Linked DNA regions of Homo sapiens: region 1 is linked to region 2. The links come from fine-mapping of genetic effects on gene expression. A gene starts in region 2. The other region holds a variant in brackets. All regions are shown on one strand. Distances are from middle to middle. Region 1 overlaps CSDC2 (cold shock domain containing C2). Region 2 holds the start of SREBF2 (sterol regulatory element binding transcription factor 2).

The links. PIP is the estimated chance that this variant, and not a neighbour inherited with it, causes the effect.
Region 1: its variant is fine-mapped to the expression of SREBF2 in whole blood (TOPMed, PIP above 0.99).

What each region holds. Positions count from the first base shown.
Region 1 is chr22:41,569,358-41,585,244 of GRCh38, forward strand. It overlaps CSDC2 (cold shock domain containing C2), which reads left to right. Exons shown (of 4, transcript NM_014460.4): 2 at 2,486-2,784; 3 at 4,298-4,420; 4 at 5,376-7,309. The coding sequence starts at 2,609. The coding sequence ends at 5,538. PMM1 (phosphomannomutase 1) reads right to left here. Exons shown (of 8, transcript NM_002676.3): 3 at 15,170-15,246; 4 at 14,924-15,015; 5 at 14,602-14,701; 6 at 9,449-9,524; 7 at 8,451-8,566; 8 at 7,543-8,083. The coding sequence ends at 7,961. Among named protein-coding and RNA genes, the nearest start is that of PMM1, 13 kb to the right of the region's middle. The variant G/C (reference allele first, on the strand shown) is at 10,903.
Region 2 is chr22:41,824,600-41,840,486 of GRCh38, forward strand. It overlaps SREBF2 (sterol regulatory element binding transcription factor 2), which reads left to right and starts at 8,506. Exons shown (of 19, transcript NM_004599.4): 1 at 8,506-8,759. The coding sequence starts at 8,672. CCDC134 (coiled-coil domain containing 134) reads left to right here. Exons shown (of 7, transcript NM_024821.5): 7 at 1,099-7,565. The coding sequence ends at 1,224. SREBF2-AS1 (SREBF2 antisense RNA 1) reads right to left here and starts at 10,066. Exons shown (of 2, transcript NR_157279.2): 1 at 9,844-10,066; 2 at 2,882-9,381. RefSeq lists enhancers at 5,953-6,493, 6,494-7,033, 7,860-8,369, 7,975-8,631, 10,422-10,923 and 2 more and silencers at 8,410-8,749, 8,810-9,199.

The DNA of each region.
Region 1 (15,887 bases), 260 kb before region 2:
GCCATCACCACAGCCAATTATAGAACATTTCCATTCCCCAAAAAGAAACGTTCTACCCATTGGCAGCCCTCCCCTCTCCCTCCTTCCCAGCCCTGGTGACCACCAGTGGACTCCCTGTCTATGAGGATTTGCCTCAGAGATGGAATCATGCCCTCTGTGTTTTTGGGACTGGCTTCTTCTCTGTGACCTTGCAAACATTCTCGCATAATGTGTGCAGGGTTCATCTAGGGTGTAGCGTGAATCAGTATTTCTTCTTTTCTTTTTCTTATGGCCAAGTGCTAGTCTACCATGTGTCTAGACCATAATTTATTATCCATTCATCTGCTGATGGGCTCGGGCTGTTTTCACTTGTTGGCTGTTGTGAATGAGCACTGGTGTGACCATTCATGAACATTTATGTCCAAGTGTTTGTGTGGTTGCTTTTTTTTTTTTTTTTTTTTTTGACAGAGTCTGGGTCAGTCACCCACCCTGGAGTGCAATGGTGTGGTCTTGGCTTGCTGCAACCTCTGCCTCCCGGGTTGAAGCAATTCTCATGCCTCAGCCTTCTGAGTAGCTGGGACTACAGGTGGATGCCATCACACCCGATTAATTTTTGTATTTTTAGGAGAGACGGGGTTTCACCATGTTGGCCAGGCTGGTCTCGAACTCCTGACCTCAAGTGATCTGCCCACCTTGGCCTCCCAAAGTGCTGGGATTACAGGTGTGCGCCACCACACCCGGCTGTTTGTGTGGTTGCTTCTTGAAGCTTCCGTATTCTTCTCTCTAAAATGAGGATAATGGGTGAAAAGGCCAAACCTGGTTTGCCCTGCCAACCTGGCATGAGCTTAGACAGAAAAGCCCCACTTCAGCCTTTTCAGGGTTGAGGGTCTGTGAGGCAAGCCAAGCCCGGGGCTCCAGTGCCTTCCTGACTGGAGGGGGAGGGTTTTGGGAGGAGGGAGGATACTACTCCACCTCCACCCCTAGGCATGGCAGAGCCAGCTCAGCATCTTGGTTCAGAAAAATTCCACTTGCTGTATAATCTTGAGCAGAGGCCAGAAGACCTGCTCCAGTGGACTCCTGGACTCATCCAGGCCTGCCATGCAGGGTGTTCAGGCTTTCTGAGCTCTGGACTCCAAGGAACCTTACAGGAACCTTGTGGGTGATTTTCCTTCCCTGGGAACTCCAAGCTCTGGGGTGGGAGGGGTATAAATTGGAGGCCACAGGCCTGTAACCCCAGCATTTTGGGAGGCCGAGGGAGGTAGATCAACTGAGGTCAGGAGTTCGAGATCAGCCTGGCCAACATGGTGAAACCCCGTCTCTACTAAAAATACACAAATTAGCCAGGCGTGTTGGCAGGCACCTGTAATCCCAGCTACTTGGGAGGTTGAGGCAGGAGAATCACTTGAACCTGGGAGGCAGAAGTGACAGTGAGCCGAGATCACACCACTGTACTCCAGCCTGGGTGACAGAGTGAGACTCTGTCTCAAAAAAAAAAAAAAAAAAATTAGCTAGGTGTGAGGGTGCATGCTTGTAAATTCCAGCTACTTGGGAGGCTGAGGTGGGAGGATCGCTTCAGCCCAGGAGATGGAGGCTGCAGTGAGTCATGACCATGTCAGTGTTCCCCAGACTGGATGAGACCATGTCTCAAAAAAAAAAAAAAAAACAAAGGATCAATGCTAGCCCCATTTTACAGAACAGAAAATAAGAGTCAGAAGTTAAGAGTGTTGACCAATGCGCTGGACGAGTTGGCTCATGCCTGTAATCCCAGCACTTTGGGAGACCAAGGTGGGCAGATCACCTGAGGTCAGGAGTTCGAGACCTGCCTGGCCAACATGGTGAGACCCCATCTCTACTAAAAATACAAAAAATCAGCCAGGTGTGGTGGCAGGCGCCTGTAATCCCAGCTACTCAGGAGGCTGAGGCAGGAGAATCGCTTATACCCAGGAGGCAGAGGCTGCAGTGAGCCGAGATCGTGCCAATGCACTCCAGCCTGGGCAACAAGAGTGAGACTCTGTCTAAAACAAAAAAAAAAATTTGACCAGAGCCAAGGCTATGTAGCCAGAAGGTGGAGGATGCAGGATTCAAACCCAGGCCTGGGTGTGGAGCCCATACTCCCACCTGCCATGTTGGAGCTGATGTGTGGCTTGGCTTGCTTGAAGTCACCAAGTTGTAGGTGACAAAGCTAAGGTTTGAACCCAGATGTGTGACTCTGAAACAACTGACCCTTATGCCGAACCATATTCTAGACCATCACTGGCCACCCTACCCAGCCACCTCCCAGGCCCCTGGAGTTAAGAGAATTGAACTGCAAACTGGAAGGACTTAGGGGTCATATGACCCCTAGTTTTGTTTTTCTGGTGAGGACTCTGAACCACGATGGGGTCGTTTGTGACTTGAAGTAACGCCGTGAGGATAGCAGGTGGGACCAGCCCTCCTCACTGTGGCCAGGGTTCAGGAGCTGCTCCCCTGGACTAGGCTCACCTGTGCCTCTTTCTTCCTCTTCCAGACGGAGCCCGTGGCTGGTGAGGCCGCAGAGCAGGGCCAGGCCGGGCCCTGCCCGCAAGGACGACCAAACCCCTCACCGGCCCCTGGGCCCCAGAGCCCACCAGGCTCTCCTGCTGGCCCCACCATGACTTCAGAGTCGACGTCACCCCCAGTTGTGCCCCCGCTCCACTCCCCCAAGTCCCCAGTCTGGCCCACCTTCCCCTTCCACAGGGAGGGCAGCAGGGTCTGGGAGCGGGGTGGTGTCCCACCTCGGGACCTACCCAGCCCTCTGCCCACCAAGCGGACCAGGACCTATTCAGCGTGAGTACCTGCCCCTTGCCCAGGCCCCTGACCCTTGTCAGGACAGGGGCTGACCATCCCCATCCTCTTCCAACTCCTGTTGTCCTCACCTGGGACAGGGGAACTGTGTGTGGACCTTCCAGTAACTGGATGGATGTTTGTCCCATACATCCATTCATCCATCCACCCATCCACCCATCCATCCATCCATCCATCCATCCATCCACCCACCCACCCACCCACCCACCCACCCACCCACCCACCCACCCATCCATCCATCCATCCATCCATCCATCCATCCATCCATCCATCCACCTGTCCATCCATCCATCCATCCATCCACCCACCCATCCATCCGTCCATCCATCCGTCTGTCCGTCCATCCATCCACCCATCCATTCATCTATCCATCTATTCCACAAAGATTTACTGAGCTCCTGACCAGTCAGGATCCATAAGCTGCTTACAATCCAGAGGGAACTTGTTCACCATCCATTACCACCCAGCAGGGTTAGGGGTGAGGACCCAGCATGGGGTACCAGAGGAGATGATGTCCTGGTTGGGTATGGAAGATGTATCAGGTGAAGAAGGGAGCTGGCGATTCTGGGCAGATGGTACAGCATGGGCAAAACCCAAGACACGGAGTTAACCTTTGGAGAGGGGTAGGTAGGCGGGACAAAGACTAGGCCTGGGCCTTTGGGGTAGGTCACCGATGAGGTGGCATAGGGGAGTAATACGGGTCCATATGGGGGAGGCCAAAGGATCTTTTGGGAAGGACAGGGTCTCGCTCTGTTGCCCAGGCTGGAGTGCAGTGGTGCAGTCATGGCTCACTGCAGCCTCAACTTCCTGGCCTTCAGCAATCCTCCCACCTCAGCCTCCTGAGTAGCTGGGACGACTGGTGCGTGCCACCACCCCCAGCTCATTTTTTTAAAAAAATGTTTGGGCCAGACATGGTGGCTCATGCCTGTAATCCCAGCACTTTGGGAGGTCGAGACAGGTGGATCAGTTAAGGACAGGAGATCAAGCCAGTATGGCCAACATGGCCAAACACTGCAAAACCCTGTCTCTACTAAAAATGCCAAAACTTAGCTGGGTGTGGTGGTGGGTGCCTGTAATCCCAGCTACTCAGGAGGCTGAGGCATGAGAATTGCTTGAACCTGGGAGGTGTAGGTTGCAGTGAGCTGAGATTGCACCCCTGCACTCCAGCCTGGGTGACAGAGAAAGACCCTGTCTCAAAAAAAAAAAAAAATTTTTTTTGTAGAGATGGGAGTCTCCCTATGTTGTCCAGGCTGGTCTCAAACTCCTAGGCCCAAGTGATCCTCCCGCCTCAGCCTCCCAAAGTGCTGGGATTACAGGTGTGAGCCACCGTGCCTGGCCTCATTATCGTTGAATGGGGATGACTGTGTGGTTTCTGGCCTGGGTCAAGTTTCTCACAGCCCTGAGGCACGCTCAGCAGAAAGGGCCCAGAATGGCTGTAGGGATCCGGGGAGGAGTTCCTCAGGCCACAGCTCCAATCCCACTACCCTATCTCCAGGACAGCCCGGGCCTCAGCTGGCCCCGTGTTCAAGGGCGTCTGTAAGCAGTTCTCACGCTCACAGGGCCATGGCTTCATCACCCCCGAGAACGGGTCCGAGGACATCTTCGTACATGTGTCTGAGTGAGTCCCCTCCACCTCCCTGTTCTTGGCCCCTGCCCTAGTGTCCCCAATGGTGCCTCAAAAATGGCTCTCCAGGCCTCTCCTCTCACTGGCTGAGGTCTGTATTCATGGTGCCTTTTCTGTCCTCTGAGTAGGGGCTGAGGGTGCGTTGGGAGAGGAGGGCTGGGGCCAGGGAGGGAGTGGGCACGCAGACCCCAGAAGCCTGGGAGCCAGCGGCTGGGCCCTGGATCCTGTTACAGCATCGTGGAGGTCTGAGAGGGCTAGGCCAGCTCCTGAGCCTCTTGGCCTGGAAAGGGCCTTCATGTGGGTGGGCCAGGAGGTAGAGATGGATATCATGTCTAGGCCTGGCCCCACCCACTTCTAATGCCAGGAGGACCGGGGGAGGTCACTGAGCTTCTCAGAGCTTTAGGGACCTCCCCGTGCCCTTTCACATCTCGGTCCCCAAGGGACCCAGAAAGGGAGGTACAGTTTATGAGTCCCATTTTATTTTATTTTATTTATTTTTTGAGAGGGAGTCTCGCTCTGTCGCCCAGGCTGGAGTGCAATGGCACAATCTCGGCTCAGTGCAACCTCCACTTCCTGGGTTCAAGCGATTCTCCCACCTCAGCCTCCCAAGTAGCTGGAATTACAGGTGCCAGCCACCATGCCTGGCTAATTTTTGTACTTTTAGTAGAGCCAGGGTTTCGCCATGTTGGCCAGGTTGGTGTCAAACTCCTGACTCAGGTGATCCGCCCGCCTCAGACTCCCAAAGTGCTGGGATTACAGGCGTGAGCCACTGTGCCCAGCCATGAGTCCCGTTTTACAGATTCGAGAGCTGAGGTTCTGAGAAGCAAGGCCTGGCCAGGCCTCCTGGCCTAGGGAGGCTTAGGGCCAGGCTGCCCCCAAGGCCAGGCCACAGGATTGTCTGGGGCACAGGGCCTGCTGCTGGGCTAATACCCCTCTTCCTGCCCGCCAGCATCGAGGGGGAGTACGTGCCAGTGGAGGGCGACGAGGTGACCTACAAGATGTGCCCTATCCCTCCCAAGAACCAGAAGTTCCAGGCCGTGGAGGTGGTGCTCACTCAGCTGGCCCCCCACACTCCCCACGAGACGTGGTCTGGCCAGGTCGTGGGCTCCTAGGCTGAGTGGTTCACAGGCCAGCTGGCCGGGGGTTGGGGAGCCACACAGGGTGAACGGGCAGCAGCCGGCTCCATGCCCCACTGCCCTGGCTGATGAGTCCTTCGGTGGCCTCAGTGTGCACGTCTGTCTGTCCGTCTGTGCTTGTGGCTATGAGCGTGTGCCTCCACCCACCCCACGACCCGTGACTACTGTGCAAGCTGGCCAGGAGGTAGGTGGAGGGCAAGGCCACCAGACCTGGCTTCGCGCTGTCCACTGCCTCTCTCCTCCCCTCCCTGCCGCAGACACGCAGGACCCGCTCGCCCTCCTGCTTACCCGTCCCCACGGTGACTGAGCTGCGAGAGCCTGCGCTGGGCTCACTCCCTGGCCTCCGCCCCTGAGCTGTCCCGTGTCAGTCCCTGGCCCGGAGCCAGGCTCTCTGTGCTACTTACATCTCCCTCCCTTGGCTGAGGTCCCCCGCCACAGCCTGGACCCTTCCCTCAGAAGCCTGGCCGATGGGTGCTTTTGGGGAGCCTCTCAGCCTCTGGCAGGGGAGGAGGACTGACACGGAGGCACACAGGCCTCTCACTGCCGAGGCCAGCCTTCCTTCCTGCTCTGCTCTCTCAGTGCCATGGAGAGGCAGGAAGAGGGGCCTGAGGGCGGAAGGGGTTTGGGGCTCCCATTTCGCCGGCCAGTCCCTCCTCCTCAGCCTGGCAGTGGCGCTGGGCTCCTTCCCCTGGGCTGTACTGAGCCGAGCCCAGGGGTTTGCAGAGGGTGGGGGTCCATCTCTCCAGCTTGGCTGCAGACCTCCTTTACCCTGACTCACAAGCCCCACTGATGCTCTGGGCCATGCCCGGCTGACGGCTGCTGTGGATGCCGCGAGGGACGGACACACGTCCGGGGCACCCACGAGGAGGGCCCCCAGCCTGGGAGACTGGCCCTGCGGCCTCCACGTCAAACTCTCTTCCCAAAGCCCTAACAGACCAGTGGCCGAGGTGTGGCTCTTATTGCATCCATCCCTGAAGATGTGTGGCTGTTGCTGTCACCTGGAGTCCTTTTGGGGCCAAGATGTGTGTGCACCCGGGGTCGTGGCCATTCACTCCCAGGCAGGGGTGAGGGTGGCCTGGCCCAGGAGGCCAGGAAGGAGGGCCCTGTCTGCCTCCACCTCTGGGTGCACCCCCTGCCTACCACCCTCCCTTCTAGAGAGCACATCGCCTGACCGGGGAGAAGTGGGGCCGTGGTTCGAGGGAGGGCTGGCCAGGGGTGGGACCCTTATGAGACTCAGTCTGTGAGTAAAACTGGGGGCTCAAATGCCCAGGATGAGGGGATCAGTGACTGTCTAGGAGGATCCCTTGCCTTGTAGGTGCCCCAAGACCGCAGGGTAGAAATCAGCCGGGATGCCTGCATCCCACCCCCGGCCCCAGGGCCCACCACATAAAATCTGGGAGCCCAGAGCTGCTGAGGTGTGGTCAGCTCCCCTAAAATGGGCACGGCCCAGCCTGTCCCATGAGGAATAAAGGCCCCTGGCCCCCTTGAGAGAGGGCTTGTTGGTGAGGGCTGACTCCTGGGGGCCCCCAAGGCTCCCCTCCTGTGGGGAGGCCACCTTTTAAGGCACCACTAGCAGTCAGGATATGGTGGCATCAGCCCTGGGGCCTCCTGGGTGGCAGGGGGGCAGCAGCTCTCCTCCCCACTCACAGGCCCTGCAGTGCTCATTTGGAATTCCTCCCAAGACCCCTGGCCACCCAGACCCCCCATTCTTCCTAACACTGGCAATAAACCCTCAACTGTGACCCACCGTGGCCTGAAGCTGCCTCTGTGTCAGGGTCCCCAAGGAAGGGGCTGGGGGTGGACACACCAAACCAGCTCTTCTTTGGGGATTCAATGGCCCCCTCCTCGACTGCATCAGACTTCCTTTGTGACCTGGGCCAAGTCCCTGCCCTCTCTGTGCTGTTTACTTGTCGGCAAAGTAGTGGCTGTGACAGCATGTGACTGGGGCCAATTATCCATTCAGACACAGCTGACACCTACTTTGTTCTGGGAACTTTAATACTGTGACAAAGTTCTCTAAAATAGGCACCTTCCCCACCGTACCTCATCGCCCAGGGCAGGCAGGCAGGGCAGGCTAGATCTCGTACCGATACTTGAGCACGCCTCCTCCTGGTGCAGAAAGAAACCTCTTCTGTACCGAAATACAAGCAGCAGCTGTGGCCTGGGCCACCAGGTGGAGCATGGGGAACACTCTGGGCCCTGGGAGGACGAAGCCAGTGCCACTAGGAGCAGACTGGCTGGGGACGGTTGTCCACACAGACTCTGGCCCCATCTGGGTGGGCTTGCAGCAGGCGTCCTGGGCCAGAGGAGGGGCCCTGGCATCTATCCAACACCAGGACCTCTCTTTAGGCCTAGGCCAAACTCTTCAGAAGTCACGACACACAGATGTGGGCCCCGGTCACGCCTCATGAGCTGTCTCTGGGAAGAAAATCTCCCGGCATCGCTGCACCGTGTCCTGAGGAGACACCACGCTGTGGCCAACAGTCCGGGGGTCGGCAAAGATCTCAAAGTCGTTCCCACCCTGCACACAGAGGATGGGCAGAGGAGGGATATTTAGGTGGAGTCCCTCTCCACATTGGCTGCTACGGACCTGCCCCTCCTCCTGCCCCTTCAGAACTGCCAGGAAGCCCACCTTCTCACCCCTTGTCAGACCTGCCCTGACTTGCTGTGTGATGTAGAACAAGTGCCCAGCCTCTTGGGGCCCCAGCTTTCCAATCTGTGTAACGGGGCTGGTGAGCAATGGTTGTTCTCCAGGAGCCCCCTAAGAGGTCTGTTGTGTTGCCCCATGTTCTGGCCTTGACCTCAGGTGATTTGCATTGGAGAAGCCACCAGACCTGGCTTCTCACTGTCCACTGCGTTAGGGGAAACCTGGGGTGGGCCACACTCACAGGGCTAGTCTCGTTCCCAAAGAAGTGGATGGTGTCGAAGCTGTCCTGGTCCAGGCTATCCAGGCAGTAGCGCTTGTCCCAGCCCTCGGGGAAGACGTCAAAGCTGATCATGCCTCCTGTGGGCAGGGGTGGGGACTGTTATTCCCTGCTGGGAGGGGCAGACAAGGCTAACAGAAGGGCTGCTTGTTCATTCATTCATTCAACAACCCTTGAGTGCCTACTGAGGGCCAGGAATAGGACACGGGACAGACTTAGGATCCTCAAGGAAGTTATGACACAGGTTGGAGAATGAACAAGACCATGAAGTGGGTGGGGGAAGCTCATCCGGCCAGGGTGATCAGGGGAGACCTCTGAGGAGGTGGCAATGAGCTGGGACCTGAGCCGAGTGGGGATGGCTGGGGCGCAAAGTACAGCCCCTGAGGCAGGGAAGAGAACGAGCGTCCCAGCAACGGAGGAGGCCAGGAGAGGTAGGGGGAGGACGGGCAGGCCCTGGGCATCACATGGAGAGGGAGGAAGAGCCTGGGGAGGACTTTGGGCAGAGGCATGTCATGACTCCAGCTCCAGCCTCTCTGGCCACTGGGGAATGGGTGAGGTGGCAGAGGGGAGCCCAGTTGTGTCAGGGTCAGTTGGAGCCTGGGACAAGCTGCTGGCAGTGGAAGTGTGAGCACCGGTGGGATTCCAGACAGGGGGCCCTGTGACTTCTAGGAGTTTGGACTTGGGAAGGGGTGGGGGAGAGCATTCAAGGGAGAGGCTCTGGTTTTTTGGCCTGAGAAACTGGGTGGGCATGGGGCGTTTACCTCTGAGGTATGAGGTGGGGAAAACTGGGGGCCAGTAAACACTGAACCCCTTTCTGCATCGGGCTCAGCCACCCTCTCTGCCCTGAGCCGGGGAGGGGCTACTAAAGCTACTGGGGGCCACAGCCTGGTCTTGGCAGGGGCAGATGGTTTGAGGAGGGGCCCTGTACCAGGCCTCCCAGGTCCTCTGCAGGGTGGACGTACCTCGAGAGAACCTCAGCCCTTTGCCAGCAAACTCTGTTTTCAGGGCTTCCACGAACTTCTCCCGGATCTTCTCTTTCTGCAGAGGGGAGGGAGCGGATGGCAGCTCAGAGGACCTGCTGTGTGCCAGGCCCTGGCTGGGCACACAGTCCACGTGAGCGTGCTGAGCATTCTAGGTGGGTAGGACCCCCAACTGTGCAGATGCGCAAACTAAGGCTCAGAGAGGGGTTGTGCCTTGGTCAAGGTCACCTAGCCCTGGTGGCAGAGCCAGGGCCTAAATCCAGAAGGGATGGGGCTGCCAATGGGGCTGTGGGCTGGGTCTTCTGAAGGAGACCTCAGAGGAGAGACACGAGTAGGAAGGGCGAGGAGACGGGGCAATCTGGATCCCACATCAGTGTCCACCTCAGGGCAGGGCTCGATCCTGTTATCTGTAACCAGCTCAACAAAGCAAATACTCAGAAATGAGCATGGGAGCTGAGAGCAGGAGACCTGTGAGGAGGTGGCTGTGGGCATTCACAGAGGGCAGCAGGATGCCAGGCATGGCAGAGCACCCAGCATGCAAAGACGCGGCTGGGCTGGGGACTAGGTAGTGCCCAGGCCGGCCCCGTCCCTCTGAGCAGGAACTCTGGCAGCAGCTCCGCAAACGTGGAGCAGGGGGACATTCTCCCCGCCAGCCCCCAGGATCTCCATCTCAGAGGGCCACAAAGGGGAGCAGCTATGCCCAGTCTGAGGGGCAGCTGAACATCTAAACCAGCCAGCAGGACATTCAGCTGACAGAGGGTCTCGAGACCGGGCTGGGAAGTCTGACCACATCCTGGGGGACCAAGAGGCGCTGAGGATTCTGGAGCACAGGAGTGGGGTGGCTGGTATGGCCCTGTAGTCAGAGCCGGGTAGGACTGGGGCGGAAAGGCAGGCAGTGGTCAGCAGCATGGAGCTTGGAGAAGTGGCCCAGGGAGGATGTCAGATATAAAGCCAGACACCCCCTAGCCTGAGATCTGAAGGCAAGTAGCCAGGCTTGGCTACTGTACTCCTCAGCTGTGTGACCATGGGCAAGTCACCTGACCTCTCTGAGCCTATTTCCTGGACTAAAGGACAGAGAAGTAATGAATGACCCCTGCCTGCTTCCCTCTCATGGAAAAGCAGAGATAAGGGATGTGAGCCCCCTGCCAGCCTTGGCCTGGCTTTCCAGCAGGTAGGTGGGCCCCAGGGAGGCCAGAGTCCCCACCAGCGTCCACTCTGTAGGCCCAGGGCTACCACTAAGACTGCCCCAGGCTCTGAAGAAATGTTTCCACATGGCCGAGGCTGGCTGCACCTCCCTTCTCTGGAGAACAAGGCTGGTCACTAGACAGCCCCATGTGCAAGGCCAGCCTCAGCAGGGACCGGCACTGTGACCTCGAGCTGGTTACTCACCCTCTGGCCTCAGTGTCCTCATCTAAGGAAGGGAAGTACTCATCCCC[G/C]CTTCAGGGTTCTGGAAGATGAGCTGGGTTAAGCATTTATTTACACCAGCTCTGGGCCAGGGCAGGGCGCACAGATCAGGAAGGTTCATGCTCCTCCAGTGCCAGAAGGGAGCAAACAAGAGCCAAAAATACTTGAGAAGGCTCTGGGGTGGGGAGTTAGGGTGTGGCTCCCCAACTCCATGCCAGGTGGGGTCCATGTGCCACCTCATCCAGTGCTCATGACAGCCCATGGGATGGGAACTGCTATTACCCCCACCTTACACATAAGGAAACTGAGGCACACGTTAGTAAAGATGCTTTTCCAGGTTACAAGGCAAATGGGTAGAGCTGGGACTGGGAACCTGGGTGGACAGGAAGGGATAACTTCTCAGCACGTGTATTGGGGGGGAAGGGTTCTTTGCCTAAGACCAATCCTAACTACCCCAAAAAAAAAGTCCCCGTGGCCGGGCGCAGCGGCTCACATCTATAATCCCAGCACTTTGGGAGGCCAAGGTAGGCAGATCACTTGAGGCCAGGGATTTGAGACCAGCCTGAACATGGCAAAACCCTGTCCCTACTAAAAAATACAAAAATTAGGCCGGGCGCGGTGGCTCATGCCCGTAATTCCAGCACTTTGGAAGGCCAAGGAGGGCGGATCACAAGGTTAAGAGATCGAGACCATCCTAGCCAGCATGGTGAAACCCTGTCTCTACTAAAAATACAAAAATTAGCTGGGCGTGGTGGCAGGCGCTTGTAGTCCCAGCTACTTGGGAGGCTGAGGCAGGAGAATCGCTTGAACCCGGGAGGCAGAGGTTGCAGCGAGCCGAGATCTCACCACTGCACTCCAGCCTGGCGACAGAGTGAGACTCCATCTCAAAAAAAAAAAAAAAAAAAAAACCCAAAACCAAACCAAAACCAAAACCAAAACCAAAAAACTTAGCCAGGTGTGGTGGCATGGGCCTGTAATCCCAGCTACTCAGGAGGCTGAGGCAGGAGAATTGCTTGAGCCTAGGCAGCGAAGGTTGCAGTGAGCTGAGATCATGCTACTGCACTCCAGCCTGGGTGACAGAGCAAGACTCTATCAAGAAAAAAAAAAAAAGTCCCTGTGCCTGTGGGCACTGCCTCCCCTAAGCCTCAGGGCACAGGTGGGAGTCAGGAGTCACTGAGCTGAGAGGCACCCTCAGGGAGGCACCAGAGGGCCAATGGCAAAATCAAATCTTTGCTCTGCAACCAACTCCCTATGTGACCTCGGGCAGGGCCCTTCTCATCGAGCCTTGGTTTCCTCATTTATAAAATGGAGATAATACAGCTCATTTCATTCATTCAAAAGGTATTTCTTGCCGGGCACAGTGGCTCACACCTATAATCACTTTGGAAGGTTGAGGTGGGTGGATTGCCTGAGCTCAGGAGTTCGAGACCAGCCTGGGCAACACGGTGAAACCCCATCTCTACTAAAATACAAAATATTAGGCCGGGCACAGTGGCCACGCCTGTAATCCCAGCACTTTGGCAGGCTGAGGCAGGCGGATCACGAGGTCAGAAGATCGAGACCATCCTGGCCAACATGGTGAAACCCCGTCTCTACTAAAAATACAAAAAATTAGCTGGGCATTGTGGTGCATGTAATCCTAGCTACTTGGGAAGGCTGAGGCAGAAGAATCGCTTGAACCAGCGAGTCAGGGGTTCCAGTGAGCCGAGATTGTGCCACTGCACTCCAGCCTGGTGACAGAGCAAGACTCTGTCTAAAAAAAAAAAATTAGCCGGGCGTGGCAGCATGTGCCTGTAGTCCCAGATACTTGGGAGGCTGGGGCAGAAGAATTGTTTGAACCCGGGAGGTGGAGGTTGCAGTGAGCCGAGATTGTGCCACAGCACTCCAGCCTGGGTGACAGAGCGAAACTCAGTCTCCAAAAAAAAAAAAACAAAAAAGGGTATTTCTTTGCGAGGTGCGGTGGCTCACACCTACAGTCTTGGTGCTTTGGAAGGCTGAGGGAGAAGGCCCACTTGAGGCTAGGAGTTCAAAACTGGCCTGGGAGACACAGCGAGATCCCATCCCTACAAAATATTTTAAAAATTAGCCTGGCATGGTGTAATGCACCTGTGGTCCCAGCTACTCAGGAGGCTGAGGTGTGAGGATCGCTTGAGCCTGAGAGATCGAGGCTGCAGTGAGCTAGGACTGGATCACTGCACTGCACTCCAGACTGGGCAACAGAGTAAGACCCTGTCTCAAAAACAATAACAACAAAAAGTATGCCATGTGCCAAGCATAGGGGATCCAGAGGAGAACAAGCCGCAGAAATCCCTCATGGAGCTTACAGTTCTGGGACAGGGACAGACAGTAATTCGGATTTTAAAAGTAGATGATGAAAGTTGTCCAAGGCTACTTGGGGAGAAATAAGGTAGGGGAAGGAGGAGGAAGTGCAGCAGTGGATGTGATACTCTCGGAGGCCCCACTGGGAAAAGGATGTGAAAGGGGATTTGAAGGAGGGGAGGGACGAGCTGGGCCTGAGAGAAGTGTGCTCTGACAGAGGCACAGCACTCTAGAATCAGCCAAGAGGCCATAGCTGGAGCAGAGGGCAGGGAGAGCCACCGAACAGGTCAGAGAGAATGACAGAATGACGTGGACGGGCCAGCATGGAAAGGTCTGGATGGGTGGATTGCTCCATCCCCGAGAGGGAGGGAGGCGGTGGGGAGAAAAGCAAAATGCACATCAAGGTTTAGCAGGGGCAGTACAGGCAGAGGTGAGAGGACCTTGGTGTGTTCCAGGAATAGAAAGTGGAACTTGAAGGGCATAGAAAGGAGACGCGGAGAGCCAGAGCCAGACAGAGCCCTCAGGGCTTGAGGCACCATAGCAGGGGGCTAGGACATCATCCAGTTGGCAACGAGGAGCCAAGGAAGGATTGTAAATGAGGGGGTGGGGCTGGGGGGTGAATGCGGCTGACATGTTTGAAAGGTTCTAATGGGCTGTGCGTGGTGGCTCATGCCTGTAATCCCAGAACTTTGGGAGGCCGAGGCAGGCGGATCACCTTAGGTCAGGAGTTCGAGACCAGCCTGGCCAACGTGGTGAAACCCTGCCTCTACTAAAAAAGTACAAAAATTAGCTGGGTGTAGTGGTGCATGCCTGTAATTCCAGCTACTTGGGAGGCTGAGGCAGGAGAATCGCTTGAACACGGGAGGTGGGAGTTGCAGTGAGCTGAGATCATGCCACTGCACTCCAGCCTCTATCTATTTTTTTGGAGACTCTATCTCCAAAAAGAAAAAGAAAGAAAGGTTCTCAGTGGCATTGCTGGAGAGCAGGCTGGCAGGGCTATGCAAGGGGTAGGGAGGGACAGAGAGGAAAGTTGGGGCAGCCTGGGGCTGGGGAAAGGGGTAATCTAGAAAGTGGGGTCTCAGTTCTGCAGATGAACAGATTTGACACTGACTCGAGAGGCTGATGAAATAAGAGTTGTTGGACCCGATGTGGGTGGGAAGGTGGAAATGATGTTCCCAGGTGTTGGCCTGGCTCAGTGGGTGGCTGCCTGGTGCTGGTCACCTAGGAAGGGGGACCAGCAGCATTGTAAAGATGCAGGTGTGTCTACAACAATGGCACACAGTAGGTGCCTGAAAGGGTATCAGTTAAATCAGAACACATCCCCCAGTCTATTTTACTGATGAGAAAATAAAGGCTCAGATAAATTGAGTGACTGAGGCCCTACAGGCCTAAGATTGCATAGCTAGTGGTACCTTGTCCAGTTCGGAGAACTCGATCCTCTCCTCCAGGGTGCAGCTCCGGCCGATGGGCGAGATGTTCAGCATGCCATTCCGGAACTCGATGAAGGTTCCACTGGTGGTGAGGGAGGGCGGGGAGCCAGAGAGAACCAGAACGGCCCTGAATTCAAATCTAGCCCCACCTGGGACCCCAGCCTCCTAGGACTTCAAAGGGGACAAGAATCCACACTCCCCGCAAAAAATCAGGGGCCCAAGTATCTCCAGGTTCCCTCTGAGGGACCCACACTTCTCCTCCCTCAGGCCCCAGGTTCTGGAGACCAGGCTGGTGGGACCTCACCGCTTCTTGGGCAGCCTGAGCAGGGCCATGTAGCTGAGGCAGAAGTTGATCAAGTCCTGCAGCAGCTCCTCCCCCAGGTGGTTCTGGATGGTCTGGCCAAGGAACACAGGGCTCTGAGCGTGGCCTGGGCTGCCTGACCCTGAGACAGGCACAGTGTCTCTCCCCCAGCCCAGGACAGAAGCCCCCTTGGACTGCTCCACTATGGAAAAGTGGGGTGCCCCTGGCTAAGCCCTGGGGGACACTGACCTGCTTGGAGAGCAGTCGTCCGTGCTTATACTGCACCGTCCCGTTCTCGGCAAACACATAATCAAACTTCTCAATGACTTCAGGGTCACATAGAGGACAGGAGGAAGAAAGAGTGTGAGACCACGTCTGTGACCCCACGGGCAAGTAAAGAGAGAGGAAGCCTACACCCTTGGTTTCACATTCAAAGGCCATTTGTTCAATCTGAGGCTACAACCTGCTTCTCCAGCCTTTCTCCCTCTGCAGCTTGGTTTTCTTCCAAAGAAGCCAGTCACACCTGTGGGCCTCTGCACACAGGCATCCATGCAGGTCCTTCTGTCAGAACCGCCCTTCCCTGGCTTCCCTGCCACTCATCCTCCAAGATTCAGCTTCCTCCTCTGGAAGCCATGCAGTACTCTCTGGCAGAGGGCATCATTTCCACTCTGTGCTCCCCTGCCCCTCTGCAGAGGGGCTCCCTTCTGTTCTATAGCTGCCATCGCACTGGGTTCTCAAGGCTGGCTGCATGGGAGAGTTGGAGGTTTCAGCTCTGACTGCCAGGCGAAGCAGTTGGAGTGGGTGGGAGGTGGGAGGCACAGGGAGCACAGCCCAGAGGCTGTTGCGGGGTCTGGGTGGCACGTGGTTACCTGGACTATGATGGCGTGGTGGAGATGGAGACAGAGGGGACAGGGAGATATTTTGGGGTTTGCTGATGGAATAAACAAGAGGTGGGGAAAAGGAAAAA
Region 2 (15,887 bases):
AAATACAAAAATTAGCCAGGTGTGGTGGTGGGCGCTTGTAATCCCAGCTACTTGGGAGGCTGAGGCAGGAGAATCGGTTGAACCCGGGAGGTGGAGGTGGCAGTGAGCCAAGATTTCACCACTGCACTCCAGCCTGAGCGACAGAGCAAGACCTCTGTCTAAAAAGAAGAAAAGAAAAGAAAAGATCCAACTGCAGTGAGGAGAATGACTTGAGAGGGACCAAAGGGGATGTGGAAAGCCCTTGGGAGGCCCCTAGAGTCATCCAGCAGAGAGATGGGGGTGGTGATGGGGGCAGCAATAGTAGAGACAGAGAAGTGGATGGGTTTGAGAGAGATTTAGGGCTTGAAAGTAGCCAGGCCTTGGTGATGGACCCGAGGAGGGAGAGGGAATGCCGGGTGCAGGTGGGGCTCCTCGGTTTCTGCCCTGCTGCTCATCAGAACAGGGACTCTGGGGAGAGGGAACCATACTGAGTCTAGGGTGCATTTGGGACATCCTAAAGGAGGTCTCAGACAGGCATTTGGAAATGGAGATGCAAGTTTGAGGGGTAACTAACCACACAGGCCAACAGAAGCTATGAGTTAGACGAGACAATCTGGAGAGAGAGGAGGGAGGACAGCCAAGGGCCTGGGTTGCAGTTGAAGAATGCCCCCACGCCACCCCCTACCGCCAATGAAGTCCTCATCCTCCACCCCCCCACTTGCCTTGTCATCTGTGACTCTGGCTGACCTCCCTCCTCTCCTCCTGAAGGGTGCAGCAGGTGTGGGGCTCCCGGGTCTGTGGTGGTCTCAGCCACTCTACTCCCTCACCCTGGAGGAGTCTGTGTGTTGTTTCTCAGATGCCCCATGTAGGTTCCCACCTCAGCATCCGTCCCTCCACCTAGAATACCCTTCCCTTTCCTCATGCCGTTGGTTTGGCAAACTCCTGCTTATCTTCCAACACCCACTCAGCAGTTCTCCCAAACCCATTTCCTGTCTCCGTGTCTGGGGCAGGGCCTGTGTCCAGGGAACCTTCCTATTCCCACACCCCGCTGGTGGCCTAGCTCAGAGCAGGCTCTTTGCTGCCACAGACTAAATCAGACTGCTCTTCTCTTCCCTTCAGTTCATTCCCAGCACTGACCCTTTCCAGAAGGCCCTGAGAGAAGAAGAGAAACGCCGAAAGAAAGAGGAGAAGCGGAAGGAGATCCGAAAAGGCCCAAGGATCTCCAGATCCCAGTCTGAGTTATAGCCCTGGAGCAGCTCAGGGCTCAGGGGGCCACAAGGAGGCAGGTCGGGAGGAAGAAGAGGTGGAGGTGTGGTTGTGGTGGAGAGCACCAGCTAGCCCCTTCCAGAAGGGGAGGCCACATTTGCCCGGCCCCCTGGAGCTGGGTCTGAGCCCCAGCTGAAGGGACTGAGCCTCAGATGGCTGGATTTTCTCTCAGGGGCCTCCTGCTGAAGGGGCCTTCAGAGGATTTTATGCTGGAAATATGACCCTGTGCAGACTGCTGGGGGAGGCAGGAGGATGCCTGCCTGGACCCTGTTGGTGGCTGAAGACCTCTGGCCAGCTGGCTTCCGCCCTTGGTGGGGAAGCAGCAGAACTAGGTTCTGAGCCACGGGTCAGGGTGCCACCCTGCTGCTGGCCCCACTGTGTCACAGAGCTGCCTGGCACAGGTCCCAGCCCCTCTGCAGAGACACAATAAAAGCCAGCAGACCCTTTGGACCGACCAAGGCTGGTGGGGACACTGTGAGGGGACCAGGGCCCCTCAGGGATGTAGAAACAGCTTGGAGGATGCCTCTGCCCCACCAGGAGGGGCCCCAGGCCCTGGCAGGGCAGAGAAGGAAGGGGCTTGGCTTGGGCCTCCTGGTCCTACGCCATCACTGCCCTTGACAAATGATTGGTGTTGGGAAAGGACCTGGAAGTGCCCTGGGACCTGGGAAACATTTAGCTCAAGAAGACCTTGGAGCAACATGATCCCTGTCCTCAGATGTCTGGGGACAGTCATTGAGCAAGCACAGGGAAGTCAGCTTGTTCTCTCTGGCAGCGCTGGAAGACAGTCAACCTGTGGGTGGGGGGCTGCAGGGGGACAGGCCGCAGCCCTGCAGGAGGCCGTGCTCCGCAATGGCTGCCCTAAGCTGCATGGGTCAGACAGCTTCCCGTCTCGGGAGGCCACAGGGCAGGGAAGCTGCAGAGGGCATGTGGCCCTGGGTAGGGCAGCTGCCCTTCACTCATGCCCCTCCCAAGCAGAGGAGGGAAGGGCTTTAGTGAGAATTCTAGCTCTGCCTCTTTGACCTTGCCAAGTCAGGATCTGCCTCTTAAAGGAGCAGAGAAAACCATCCCAGATCCCCTCGACACCCAGCCCCCTACCACTGACAGAGCACAAGTGAGATCTGAGTGTTAGCCCTTCAGATTTGCTGACTGGCCTTGGCCCACCCCTCCCTGTGCTGCAGCTTCATTGGCAAAATGAATTTGATGGTATCTGTATCCCCTGCCCAGCCCTAACCTGTTTCTCTGAGGCTGGCCTCCCTACGGGGCTGCAGCAGCAAAGGGAAGCCAAGCCTTAGAGAAGCCTCATGGAAGGGCCCAGAACATCCTGCACCCATCAGTTACTCGGAAGTAAGGGGACAAGAAGCAGCTGGAAGAGAGCTGGGTGTGGGGGCTGGGAGGAGTGCTGGAGAAATTTCCCCATCAGAAGGCCCCTCACTGGGCAGTGGAGGCAGGGCAGTGTGGTGGGACTGACTCAACAGACATAGTTTCATCTCCACCCTGCCCTTCTCAGGTTGTGTGACCCCAGCCACATGGACACCCGAGTCTGTGAACTAAAGGGCTGGTCCATGGCATTAACAGTGGAGGGTGTCCAGGTTCTTGATGTCTTGAACAAAGAATTGGGCAAAATGCACAAAGCAAGGAAGGAATGAAGGGTTTTACTGAGAATGAAAGTATACTCCACAGCATGGGAGAGGGCCTGAGCATAGGGACTCAAGGGGCCCGTTACAGAATTTTTGGGAGTAAATACCCACTAGAGGATTCCATTGGTTACTTGAGGTACACCCTATGTAAATGGAAAGGATGAAGTAAATTTACAAATTCATTTACAGCATATACCCTATGGGGAGGATATTCCCTGTTATAGCTGAAGCGTGAATTGGCCTTATGTTCCCTGCCTCCAGACCCTATTTTCCTGCATCAACGGGAAAGGGTCAGATTCACTGGCTCAGCTGTTTAACCTGTCCTGGTGCCAGCAGCTGGAGCTGGGTGTCAGGACCAGCCCGCAAGCTCTTCCCTGCCGGAAGGACCAGGCCAGTCGCTGTCCTTTTCATGCTAGAGAGTGGTTGTGGTTGCTGACTTAGCAGAGAAGGTGCTTGGCTTTCCCCTTAACTGGAGAAAAAACTTTCTAAGAACCAGGCCTGGTTGGCAGCAGACCTAGCTTTCTTGGGGTGGCAGGGAGGCTAAAGCATACCTCAGGACAGTCAGTGGTGGGTCCAGCTTCGGCTGGAGGTTCTTTCTACTGAATAACTTCTACGGGCTCTGTCATTAGCAGGATTTGTATAATTTGAAGCAGAGCTGGGCAACTGCAGAGCAATGGGGAAGCCAGCCCAGTGTGGTGGCAAGACCTGGGCAACTTGGGACCAGCCTGGGCTGTCTCTTGCCAGCTGTTGTTATCAGAACCAGGCTCTTCACACTCAGATCCTTGGGCCCCCCATCTCAGAATGCCCAGTGGTTGAAAGGATGAAACCTGGAATTTAAGTGACTTCTCAGTGATGTGTGCCCTTCTCTGACGGTTCCTTGTTCATCCCATGTATTTACTGACTGCCTGCTATATATGCAGAGCCAAAGAGTGGGGCCTGGTCTTGAACTATCTCCTCATCTGCCCCTTCTGGCACCTCCTTCCTCCTGGGCTCTTTCCTCTAATACCGTCATCCTCTCTCCAACCTGGTTAATCCTGTCCTTTCTGCCCTCAAATGGGCACCTTCAAAGAAACAAATAGAACTACTCCACTCGCTCCCTCTCTCCCTCCCTTTACTGCCACTATTGATTGTTATAGTCACTTGCTCCAGGAAGTCCACTTGCTGAGTCTTACTGCAGACAGAGCCCACCCCCTGAGCTGTAAAGGCCCTAGGGCACATGTTTGTCCAGCTGCCTCTTGCAGCTGGGATTGTTAGGTCACTATAGCGCTACCAACTGCATATACCACTGTGGGAGTCGTGCTGGTGGCGGTAGTGGTCACAGGTACCAGGGGCAGCAGTGAAGGGGTGGCTCTAATGCCAAGTCCAGTGACCAGTGCCAGGGTGCCCAGTGGTGGCAACAGTGGTGTTTTCAGTGTGATCTTGGACATTGCTCCTGTCTACTCAGCTGCTAGTCTGTGAGCTCCCTGATATCCTTTAAGACAGCGTTTTCCAGCAGCGGCACTATTAACGTTTGGGGCTAGGTAATCGTTGGGTGTGTGAGTGTGAAGAGGGCTGTCCTGTGTGTTGTAGGCTATTTTAGCAGCATCCCGGCCTCTCCCTGCCAGGTGCCTGTAGCAGTCCCCCAGTTACGACAACCAAAAATGTGTCCAGACATTGCCAGATGTCCACTGGGAGGGAAAACCTCTCTGGTCCACAGCCCTTCTCCTTATTCCAGTCCCACATCTTCCTCCCCTTCCCCATCACTGTCCTCAGAGAGATGCTGTTGACAGCTCCTTGAGGTGATTCTCTCAGGCTTGTTGTTGTAGTTCTCTGCTGTCAAGTCTGAGCTGACTCTCTCTTCCGGATTCTTCTTTCCTCACCTGCCCCCGTTTGCATGAAGTTTTTTATGGAGCTGTTTCTATTTTCTTTTTGGGCAGCCATACTCTCTAAGACCTAAAAGCTGAATACTCGCCCGGTTACTACCTGATAATTCTCATCGCTTATGTTTCCAAAACCAAACTGGTTATTTCCCTCTCTAACCCCATCTCTGTGTCAAACAGTGGAGTACATGCTTTTGGTTAATCCAATTGGAAGGCTTCCTAGAGGAAGTAATATCTGAACTGAATCCTGAAAGATTAGGGGAAGAGGAAGAAAAGGACAGGTGCTGTGGGAAAAAGGGGAAAGTGTCAGAGGAAGTAAATGAAAAACCATATACAAAATTATCTTCTGTGACCCGTAGCACATGCCCAATCCATGGTAGATATCGAAACATAGTGGTTACCCAGTCTAATCCATCCCTTTTCTTTCTTTCTTTCTTTTTTTTCTTTTTTTTTGAGACAAGTCTCACTTTGTTGCCTGCCTGGAGTGCAGTGGTGCGATCTCGGCTCACTGCAACCCCCGCCTCCCGGGTTCAAGTGATTCTTCTGCCTCAGCCTCCTGAGTAGCTAGGACTACAGGTGCTTGCCACCATGACCAGCTAATTTTTGTATTTTCAGTAGAGATGGGTTTCACCATATTGGCCAGGATGGTCTCGATCTCTTGACTTCGTGATCTGCCTGCCTCGGCCTCCTAAAGTGCTGGGATTACAGGCGTAAGCAACCGTGCCCGGCTGTCCATCTCTTTTCAGATGAAGAGCTCAGGTTCTGAGGAGTGACTTGTCAAAAGCTGTTCTACCTCTCAGAGCCAGCCCTTGTCCTCCTGCTAGCCAGAGCAAGGTACCACCTGGAAGAGATGTTCAGTTACATGGGATCCAGGGCCAGAGGGAAAATATCAGTGCTTCCTGAGGTTCGGGTCCAGCCACCCTTCTTCCACCATTTCTACTGAGCCTTCAGTTGTACCCCTTCAGTCCACTTGGCGAGGCATCACGCCCTCTGGGCAGGCTCAGTGGGGAACTATGGGAGCAGGTGCTGTGTGCCACCTCTGGAGGGGGTCACTGAGGTTCTGGGTTGTGGGGGGTGCCCTGGGCCAGAGTGAGTTGTATGGGAGTTGTTGCTGAATCCCCCCAGAGTACCAGTCACACACCAGTGTGAGGGGCCTTGCAAGAGCCACTGGGCAGCACAGTTGAAGGTGGCACCTTCCTGCTCAGTGCTGTGTCCAGAGCAGGGTTTAGTTTTCTGTGTCTTTCAGGGTGAGACTGGTGTATTCTATACCAGCCTCCCTGTGTGTGAACAATGACGAGAACAATGTTGTCTTGCTTTCCCAAAAAATAAGACACTATCTATTTCTCATTAGTTATACACGTTCATTATAAAACGTAATTTAAGCAATACTGAAATGCCAAAAAGAAAGTAAAATTCACTCCAAAAGTAAAATTCACCCCAAATCTCACTACTCCTGTAACTATGTCTGACAGCCAGCTGTTGGGTCTTCCATCGTTTTTAACCTTCAGGTGAGCACACAGATCCTTATTTTTTCTTTTCTTTTCTTTTTTTTTTTTTTTTTTTTTTGAGACGCAGTCTCCTGTTGCCCAGGCTGGAGTGCAATGGCGCGATCTCTGCTCACCGTAACTTCTGCCTCCCGGGTTCAAGCAAGTCTCCTGCCTCAGCTTCCTGAGTAGCTGGGATTACAGGCATGCACCATCACGCCTGGCTAATTTTTGTATTTTTAGTAGAGACGGGGTTTCACCAAGCTGGCCAAGCTGGTCTCGAACTCCCGACCTCAGGCAATCCGCCCACCTCAGCCTCCCAAAGTGCTGGGATTACAGGCGTGAGCCACCTTGCCCGGACTCTCTTTGTATTTTTTCTTTCTTTTTTTTGAGACAGAGTCTTGCTCTGTCTCCCAGGCTGGAGTGCAGCGACATGATCTCAGCTCACTGCAGCCTCTATCTCCCAGGTTCCGGCAGTTCTCCTACCGGTTAGCTGGGATTACAGGCATGCGCCACCACACCCGGCTAATTTTTGTATTTTTAGTAGAGACGGGGTTTCACCATGTTGGTCAGGCTGGTCTCCAACTCCTGACCTCAAATGATCTGCACACCTCGGCCTCCTAAAGTGCTGGAATTACCGGTGTGAGCCACCGCGCCTGGCCAGATCCTTATTTTTTCAATTGCAATACAGCAGTATGCAAGGCACTTACTGTATGCCAAAGCTTATGCCGAGAGCTGGCTGCCAGCAGCTCCTCCTGCCTCGAGGCCTTTGTCCATGTCATCATTTCCCCTTTGGCTGTAACAGCTGCAGTTCTCTCATAATTTTAGGTTTCATCTTAAATGTCACTTCTTCAGAGGCTTCTTGACAGCACAAGTCAGGGCCCTTGTTAGTTTCATCACATCCATTACCTTTCCTTGATCACTTGTACCATCATCTGTAATTTATTTTTATGTTTAATACGGGTGTGGGATTTCTGATTTTTTTTTTTGCTAGACTGGAAGCTCTCAGAGGGCAGGAACCATTTGTTTCCCTGCCACAGAGATGTTCAATAAATATTGTCAATTGAATGTGCAAATAATCTCACTTAACCACAGCTATGAGGGATGCTATTTTATCCCCATTTTAGAGATGACTAAACTGAGGCTTAGAACAATTAACCCAAGGTCACAGTGAATTAGTGGATCCATGTGTCTGCCTCCACACAGCCTGTGTGTTCTTAATTATTGATCACTAAGCAACAGCTGCCTCTCACAAACTGGCAGGAAACTTCAACTTTTCCCTTTTATCAATATATTGTGAACGCCTTTTCTTGCTAATAAATATACATTTGTGTGCGTAATTTTTAATGATCCCATGGTATTCCATCGTGTGGATGTAATTTACATATTCATTTCCTTATTCTCACTTCTTCCTAGTTACAGCACTTCTTTAAGCACTTGTAATTTTTATTCCTTTGGATAAATTCCTAGAAGTTTACAACACGACCAGCTGCAAGATGGGGCAGTGAGGTGCTTGAAGGAGTGGGTGGGCTGCACTTCAGAATCCCGGTGGAACTTTTTCAAAAAACTCGTGCCCGGGGCCCCCCTCTCAGGAGGCCGTCGGTGGGCCTGGGCACTGGCGTGGTTTTCAGGTCCTCAGTGGTTCCGAGGTGCCAGAGATTGAGGACCACTGGAGTAAGCGCGAGGTCACGGCGGGTGCAAAGCAGAAGACGTAAAATCCTGACCGCCCTGGGACAATCTGCAACCTTGTCAAGCCTCCGTGCCCGCCTTTGTAAGGAGGCTGGGAGAAGCGGGACTTGGATGACCCGGACTCCCGTCCCGAGCGCTGGGGTCCAGGTTTGACTCCGCTGGCTTTCTCAGGCGGGCAGGGCGGGGGTAGGCAGCTGGGAAGATGACGTAATGTGCTCCCAGCCAGGCCTGGAGGCGGCCAGCGGTCGCAGGTGGAGGGTGGCCTGTTAACCCTTCACTCCCAGGCCAGTGGACGGACTTGCGTGTGGCGCAGATCCAACGGAGAAGGCAGCGGCTCCTTTAAACAAGGCGGAGAAGGTTAAGATGATGACCGGACGGCTACTCCAGGCATTCGCTCCGAGGCCGCGGGGGGAGGGACCTCACTATGCAAATCTGAGCTGCTGATCGATGACGCGCCATCACCCCACGCACCGCTTCGCTCGCCCATTGGCTGAGATGAGCCTGGTCCCATTGACAACAAACAGGGGGGCGCGCGGCCTGGAGGCGGGGCCGCAGGGGGCGCGGGCTGGGGCGGGGGAATCCCGCCCCGCCCTTTCTGTGCGGCGCCCGGGCGCAACGCAAACATGGCGGCGGGTGGCACCCGTCGGTGAGGCGGTGCCGGGCGGGGGTTGTCGGGTGTCATGGGCGGTGGCGACGGCACCGCCCCCGCGTCTCCCTGAGCGGGACGGCAGGGGGGGCTTCTGCGCTGAGCCGGGCGATGGACGACAGCGGCGAGCTGGGTGGTCTGGAGACCATGGAGACCCTCACGGAGCTGGGCGACGAGCTGACCCTGGGAGACATCGACGGTGAGTGGTGGGTGGGTGGGAGTGCGGGGGCCGCGCGGGGAGGAAGGGGTTACGGCGGCGCGCCCGGGTGCGCGTGCGCCCACCCCCCGACAGCCCCGGTTCGCGCGGGAAGAACCCCGTGCGCACGGTGCCCCCGGCGGTCCTCAACCCTTCCGGCGCTGCGAGCGTGAGCCCGACCCAGCTGCGCCGCTCCGGGAGGCCGTGGGATCTGGGGCGCCGCGGGGCCGAAAGCGGCGCGAGGGTCGCGGGTTCCAGAGCGCGGGGCTAGGGACGTCGCGGGGGCGTCTCAGGGAGCGGCCTAAGGAGAGCGCGTGGCCGCCGCCTCCCTCGCGCGCCCACACGCGGTTTCCGTGGTCCGCTCTCCCGCCGCCCGCGACCGCGCGTCGCACCTGTCACTCCCTTCCTGGCCGCGGGGACGTCTTTGGGATTCCCGGGGCCCAGCCCCCAGTCTCCGCGCCCCGAATCCCTGGGCTTCTCAGGATTGACCGACGGCCAGGTCGCCGGGTGCTCCGCGAAACTTTGGGCAGCGACTGCAGAAGCAAGTTGCTGATGAAGAGAGCAGTGGCGGCGGAGTGTGGACACATCTCTCCGGGATGGAGACCCGGGCGCTCCTGCTGTCACGCTGCAAGGGGAATTGAGCAGAAGAAATTTTGAGTTGTGGCCCCTCGGGTACGGGCTGGGGAGCGGGTGGCCTTTGTTCCAGCGCCTTAACAGCGGAGTGGAAGAGCTGGTAGGAGCCCAGGGATCCACTCTTAAAATACTAATTTTGCGACCACGGGAACAACGATTTGGAGAGGGTCAGCGGCTTGCTCAAGGTCACCCAGCTGGTTAGAGCCTAGTTCTTGCAGTTCCTTGGCCAGTATTGGTTTTTTTATACCCCTCCTTTCAAGAAAGAGTCCAGTTGACTAGGCTAGTAATCTTATTAACTGGATAGTTGCACTCTTATGTTTAGGCCCCAAAATGCTTTGTATTATTTCACTTCTTCCTCACAACAATCCTGTGAGATACTCTTATTACCTCTATTTTAATACGGTAATTAAAGAAGCCGAGGCCAGGAGATGTTGACTTATCTAAGGCCACTCACCTTAGAGAGCTTAGGCAGAAACACAGGTGCATTGTACTTTTCAGTTTTCAGAATGCTTTCATGTCCAGGATCTCACTACAGCCTTGCAGGCATGTATGATGGCTACATCCCCGTTGTGCAGATGAAGAAGCAGAAGCAGCAGAAGATTCTCTTTTGGGGGAAGAGATAAATGCAGCAGCTAATTGAAAAGGATCTGTTTGCCATTTTCCCATTTTGCTTTTGTAATATTTCTCCCCTTGGTTTGTCCTTGATTTCCATTTTGGTCATGTGGGCAGTGTGATAAGACCCTTAATTGAAGCCCCAGTTCTAACCACAGACTCTTTGCTAAGTGCTTCTAAATACAGAAATGGGTTAACAAATGGGGGATGGGGTAGGTGGGGGTTGGGAACATAGCAAGGGCAGCTAACATGTTTTGAGAACTTCTGTGCCAGACGGTGTTAAACAGTTATACACGTTAATGTTCTCAATCTTCCTAACAACCCTGTCAGGTAGAGAGAACTGTTATACTTGTCATCTCCCTCTCACTGATCCTGAAAGTGAGGCCCAGGGTGGTTCATTAATTTACTGAAGATTACACAGCCAGTAGAAAGTACTGTATGTCTATAGCTGCCTACCTGCAAGGGCACAGAAAGAAATTCATGTGCATTTTGCATTCCTATTCCATGATCAATTCCTATTTGTCTTATTTTGTTTATCTGATTTTTAAATTTAAATTTTTATTTATTTAGTTATTTTTTGAGACAGGGTCTCATTCTGTCACCCAGGCTGGAATGCAGTGGCACAATCATAGCACAAACTCTTAGGCTCAAATGATCCTCCTGCCTTGGCCTCCCAAAGTGCTAGGATTACAGGTGTGAGCCACCTAAATTTTTTTTTTTTTTTTTTGAGATGGAGTTTCGCTATTGTTGCCCAGGCTGGAGTGCAATGGCGCGATCTCGGCTCACCGCAACCTCCACCTCCCGAGTTCAGGCGATTCTCCTGTCTCAGCCTCCCGAGTAGCTGGGATTACAGGCATGCGCCACCACGCCCGGCTAATTTTGTATTTTTAGTAGAGACAGGGTTTCTCCATGTTGGTCGGGCTGGTCTCCAACTCCCAACCTCAGGTGATCCGCCCACCTTGGCCTCCTAAAGTGCTGAGATTACAGGCATGAGCCACTGTACCTGGCCGAGCCACCGTGCCTGGCCGAGCCACCTAATTTTTTTTAGAGACAGTGTCTGGCTGTTGCCCAGGCTGGAGTGCAGTGGCACAATCATAGCTCACTGCAGCCTTGAACTCTTGGGCTTAAGCAATCCTCCCAGCTCAGCTTCCCGAGTAGTTAGGACTAAGGCATGTGCCACCACACCTAGCTAATTTATATATATATGGTAGAGCCAGTCTCACTGTGTTGCCCAGGCTAGTCTTCAACTTCCAGGCACATGCAGTCCTCCTGTCTTGGCCTCCCAAAGTGCTGGGATTACTGGCATGAGCCACTGTACCCGACCCTGTCTTAATTTGTAATGAGTTTAAATTACCTAGTGGTTAATACTGTCTTTATCCCCACAGATTTCTGAATAAAATGGAAACTACCACCCTCTGGAAACTACCACAGTGGTTCAGTGGCTTCATAGGTCCATTAGGTTTGATCCCAGTGGAAGAAGATTCCATTTCTCTGTCCTTCCAGAAGACCTGGTTTATAACAGTGCATAAGGCTTTTTCTCAAAATAGTTATATACCGCACAAGGAAGAGGTGTGGCTGTTGTGTCACAGGAGACCTAGGGGCCAGGTTTGGGAAAAGTGGTTCCATGTCTTCAGTTGATCAACAAGTATTCAAGTGCTGGCTGTGGTTTCTGAGCTGTAAGGAATCGTGAAAGATAGCATAGAATTTTATGGCTTCATGGAGCTTGAGATGAGAAACTCTAGTGCCAGTATGGAACAGCTTAAAATTGCACAGCACAACAAGTAAAAGTCAGCAGTGAGGGTAGCTTGGTAAAGGCTGGCTTAGCAGGAAGACCACACCAAAGAGGTGGCTCTTGACCTGGGCCTTGGAGGACAAAAAGAGTTGGGCATGCTGAAGGTCAGTGGTCTGAAGATAAAATTATCCCTTGATTCTCACCCCTGTGTTCCCATTACTGAATGTTAGCTCCTTGAGGCAGAGACCTTCGTTTCATTCCCACTAAATTCTTTGAACCTAGAACAGTGCCTGGCACAGTGAGAGTGCCCATTAAATATTTGTGGAATGCCTGAGTGATCCAGTGATCTTGGGCTGGGCAGGATACTAATTGTCTTGGACATGGTTTGGAGTTGGATTAGATCAAGGAAATAGCCAGCCTGGATGCTTCTAGGAGCCGGTCAGGTGAGGAAGGGGAGAGGCAGGCAGGGTGAGTACATTTACTTCCTTTGTATGTGTATGGTGGGGATAAGGGGTGGATGCAACCTAGAGAGCCTCCAGGAGGTGCAGGCAGGCAAGGATCCATTCATTCCACAATGTCTGCTGTGTTCCAGTCCATTGGTACCCTTCAAGGATATGGGCTCAGGGAGGCCACATTCATTTACTCATTGAATGGCTTCTAAGTATTCATGATGGACAAAGGATAACTTGAGCGCGACAGATCATGTGTCTTCTCTCTCACGAAGCTTACATTCTTGATGGAGGAAATACAAGTTGAGTAAAATAAATGAACAGTTTAGGCAGGGCACTGTGAGCAAAATAAAATTGGGCCATATTATAGAGTGTGACTGGGCTAGCCTACTTAGATTCGGAAGTCCAGGGAGGCTTCTTGGAAGAGAGGTATCAGTGTCTGTTTTTCAAGAGATGCCGAAGTCTGGATTTTTATTTGAAATACCCAGATTTTTGGCCGGGCACAGTGGCTCATGCCTGTAATCCCAGCACTTTGGGAGGCCGAGGTGGGCGGATCACCTGAGGTCAGGAGTTCAAGACCAGCCTAGCCAATATGGTGAAACCCCATCTCTACTAAAAATACAAAAATTAGCCGGGCATGGTGGTACACGCCTATAGTCCCAGCAACCCAGGAGGCAGAGACAGGAGAATCACTTGAACCTGGGAGGCAGAGGTTGCAGTAAGCTGAGATCATGCCACTGCACTCCAGCCTAGGCAACAGAATGAGACTCTGTCTAAAAAAAAAAAAAAAAAAAATGCTGGACACGGTGGCTCACACCTATAATCCCAGCACTTTGGGAGGCCGAGGCGGGTGGATCACCTGAGGTTGGGAGTTTGAGACCAGCCTGACCAACATGGAGAAACCCCGTCTCTACTAAAAATACAAAATTAGCCGGGCGTCGTGGCACATGCCTGTAATCCCAGCTACTCAGGAGGCTAAGGCAGGAGAATTGCTTGAACCCGGGAGGCAGAGGTTGCAGTGAGCCGAGATCGCGCCATTGCACTCCAGCCTGGGCAACAAGAGCAAGACTCTGTCTCAAAAAAAAAAAAAAAAAGAAAGAAAGAAAGAAATACCCAGATTTTTATATGTTGGCTCATTTAAAAAAAAAGTACTATAGGCACCCAATAAAGCATGTGTGCTAGTTGATCTCTGGGGTCTTGTACTACTGCAGAACGTCCTGTTGTCCCAGGCCCCCAGGTTTCCCATAATAGAGTAAGTCTACCATTTCATTTTGTGTTATATATCTCTATTTTGAGAAAGGGCCTCATGTGCCATTACACACCAGGTCTTCTGGAAGGGCAGCAAGGTGGGATCCTCTTCCACTGGGATCAGGAAAGAAACAGTCATGGAGGTGACCTTTTTGCTGGGTCCAAATAGATGGGTGGCAGGAGCAGCCTGACAAGTATGTGGGAGGAGTTAGAACAAGCTGCCTTTGGAAATGAAAGTTTACTAGAGATTTCTTGGAATATAGTGTGTGTGAGGAAACAGTAGAAGATGAGGTCTGAGAGGTGAGGTGGAGCTAAATTGTACTGTAGATGCAAGGTGTTTTATGGAAGATAGGGAATTGTTGAAGATTTTCAAGTAGGGGGTGACATATTAATCATGGGTTTTTAAGAAAATTGAATTGTGGGCTGGGCTCAGTGGCTCATGCCTGTAATCCTAGCATTTTGGTAGGCCGAGGAGGGTGGATCACCCGAGGTCAGGAGTTCGAGACCAGCTTGGCCAACATGGTGAAACCCCATTTCTACTAAAGATGCAAAAATTAGCCGGGCATGATGGTGGGCACCTGTAACCCCAGCTACCTGGGAAGCTGAGGCAGGAGAATCGCTTGAACCTGGGAGGCGGAGGTTGCAGTGAACCCAGATTGTGCCACTGTACTCCAGCCTAGGTGACAGAGCAAGACCTTGTCTCAAAAAAATAAAAGAGAAAGAAAAGAAAATTGAACGGTGGTGATAGGCAAGGAAGATTGGAGGCAGGGAGGCCAATTAGGAAACTGTAGCCATCCAGGTGTGAGGTGATGAAGGGTGACAAATTTGGATGGGAAGTGGCCCTCATTCAAATACCTTTCCATGGCACTGACTTGGGCCTCTGCTTGCTTCTCCCTGCAGAAACCCAGTTTGACAGAGTACCCTGCAGTACCTGGCACTGACTAGGTGTTCTGTAAAGGTGTGTCTGATGAGGAAAGGAAAGCACCTCAAGTTCAGTCTGAGTGTTCACACCATTGGGAAGGTTGGAGTGGCCAACTGGGTGAGCAAGGAGTGAGTGTTGGGGATGTGACAGGACATGTCCTCACTGAAGGCTTGTCCCTGAAGGCAGAGCAGAGGGAGAATTCTAAGATCCCATTAAGACTTTGAGCCTGGAGCACTGGGGGAGTTAGGAGTCAGCAGAAAGAGCTGGTTAGGGGAAATGATGAAAATTTATCTTAATTGTGCTGAAATTGGGGTGCCTGGGGGTCATCCATTAGGAAATGAGATGTAGATACTTAGGAGAAGGTAAAACTGGGATGGAGATTGAAGAGAGTCACTGCTGAGTCAAGAGGAGAGAACTGGGAGATTAGAGGTTAGGAAAGTGTTAGCTTTTCAAGGAGTAGTCTGTAGATGGTGGAGACAATGCCACAGAGAACAACAAGGATGACAAGGCCATGCAAGGAGTCGTGGGACTTGGTATTAGGAGGCCAAACCTTGCCAGAACAGTCAGATGAGGGAATCCAAGGCAGAAAGGAAGCAGGGGTGAGTGGGAGATGGGCAGGTGGAAGCAAGTAGTTCTCTTTGGAGAAAGTAGAATAATTTTTTCAATGAGCTGATCTACTTTCTGTCTTGATGAGTTTGCCTGTTCTGGACAACTCATAAATGGAATCAGACAGGTAGCATAATATTGCTTAGGTTCATCATGTTGCAGTGTAGTGTTCCATTGCATGGACACACCGCATTCTGTTTTATCTACTCTTCAGTTGGTGGACATTTGGGCCGTTTCCACTCTGGCTACATTATGAATGAAGCTGCTACAAACTTGTGTACAAGTTGCTGTGTGGACATATATGTTCATTTCTCTTGGGTAGATCTTCTACATTTTTTGTTGTTTATGTTTTCCAAGAGCTTATAATAAATAGTCCCATTTATTCACATGCTTAGTTTCTTTTTTTTTTTTTTTTTTTTTGAGACGGAGTCTCACTCTGTCGCCCAGGCTGAAGTGCAGTGGCGCGGTCTCAGCTCACTGCAGCCTCTGCCTCCTGGGTTCAGGCAGTTCTCTGCCTCAGCCTCCCAAGTAGCTGGGATTATAGGCACCCACCTCCACACCCAGCTAATTTTTTGTATTTTTAGTAGAGACGGGGTTTCACCATCTTGGCCAGGCTGGTCTTGAACTCCTGTCCTTGTGATCCACCCGACTCGGTCTCCCAAAGTGCTGGGATTACAGACGTGAGCCACCGCGCCCGGCCCACATGCTTAGTTTCTATGTTCCTGTAACTAATTTGCCCTAAATCTTGTGACAGAAACTTGCAATGTGGTGGTCAGTTCCTTTCTTTCCTGTCCCATCTGATGGCTATGGTTTAGGTCTGCTCTCCCTTCACTTATCTTGGGACAACCCCTAACCATCACCCTTGGGGGCAATGTTGAAGCTCTTCTTTCCCAGTTCTTGATTTTTACTCACTTATTTTAGTGGAGCAC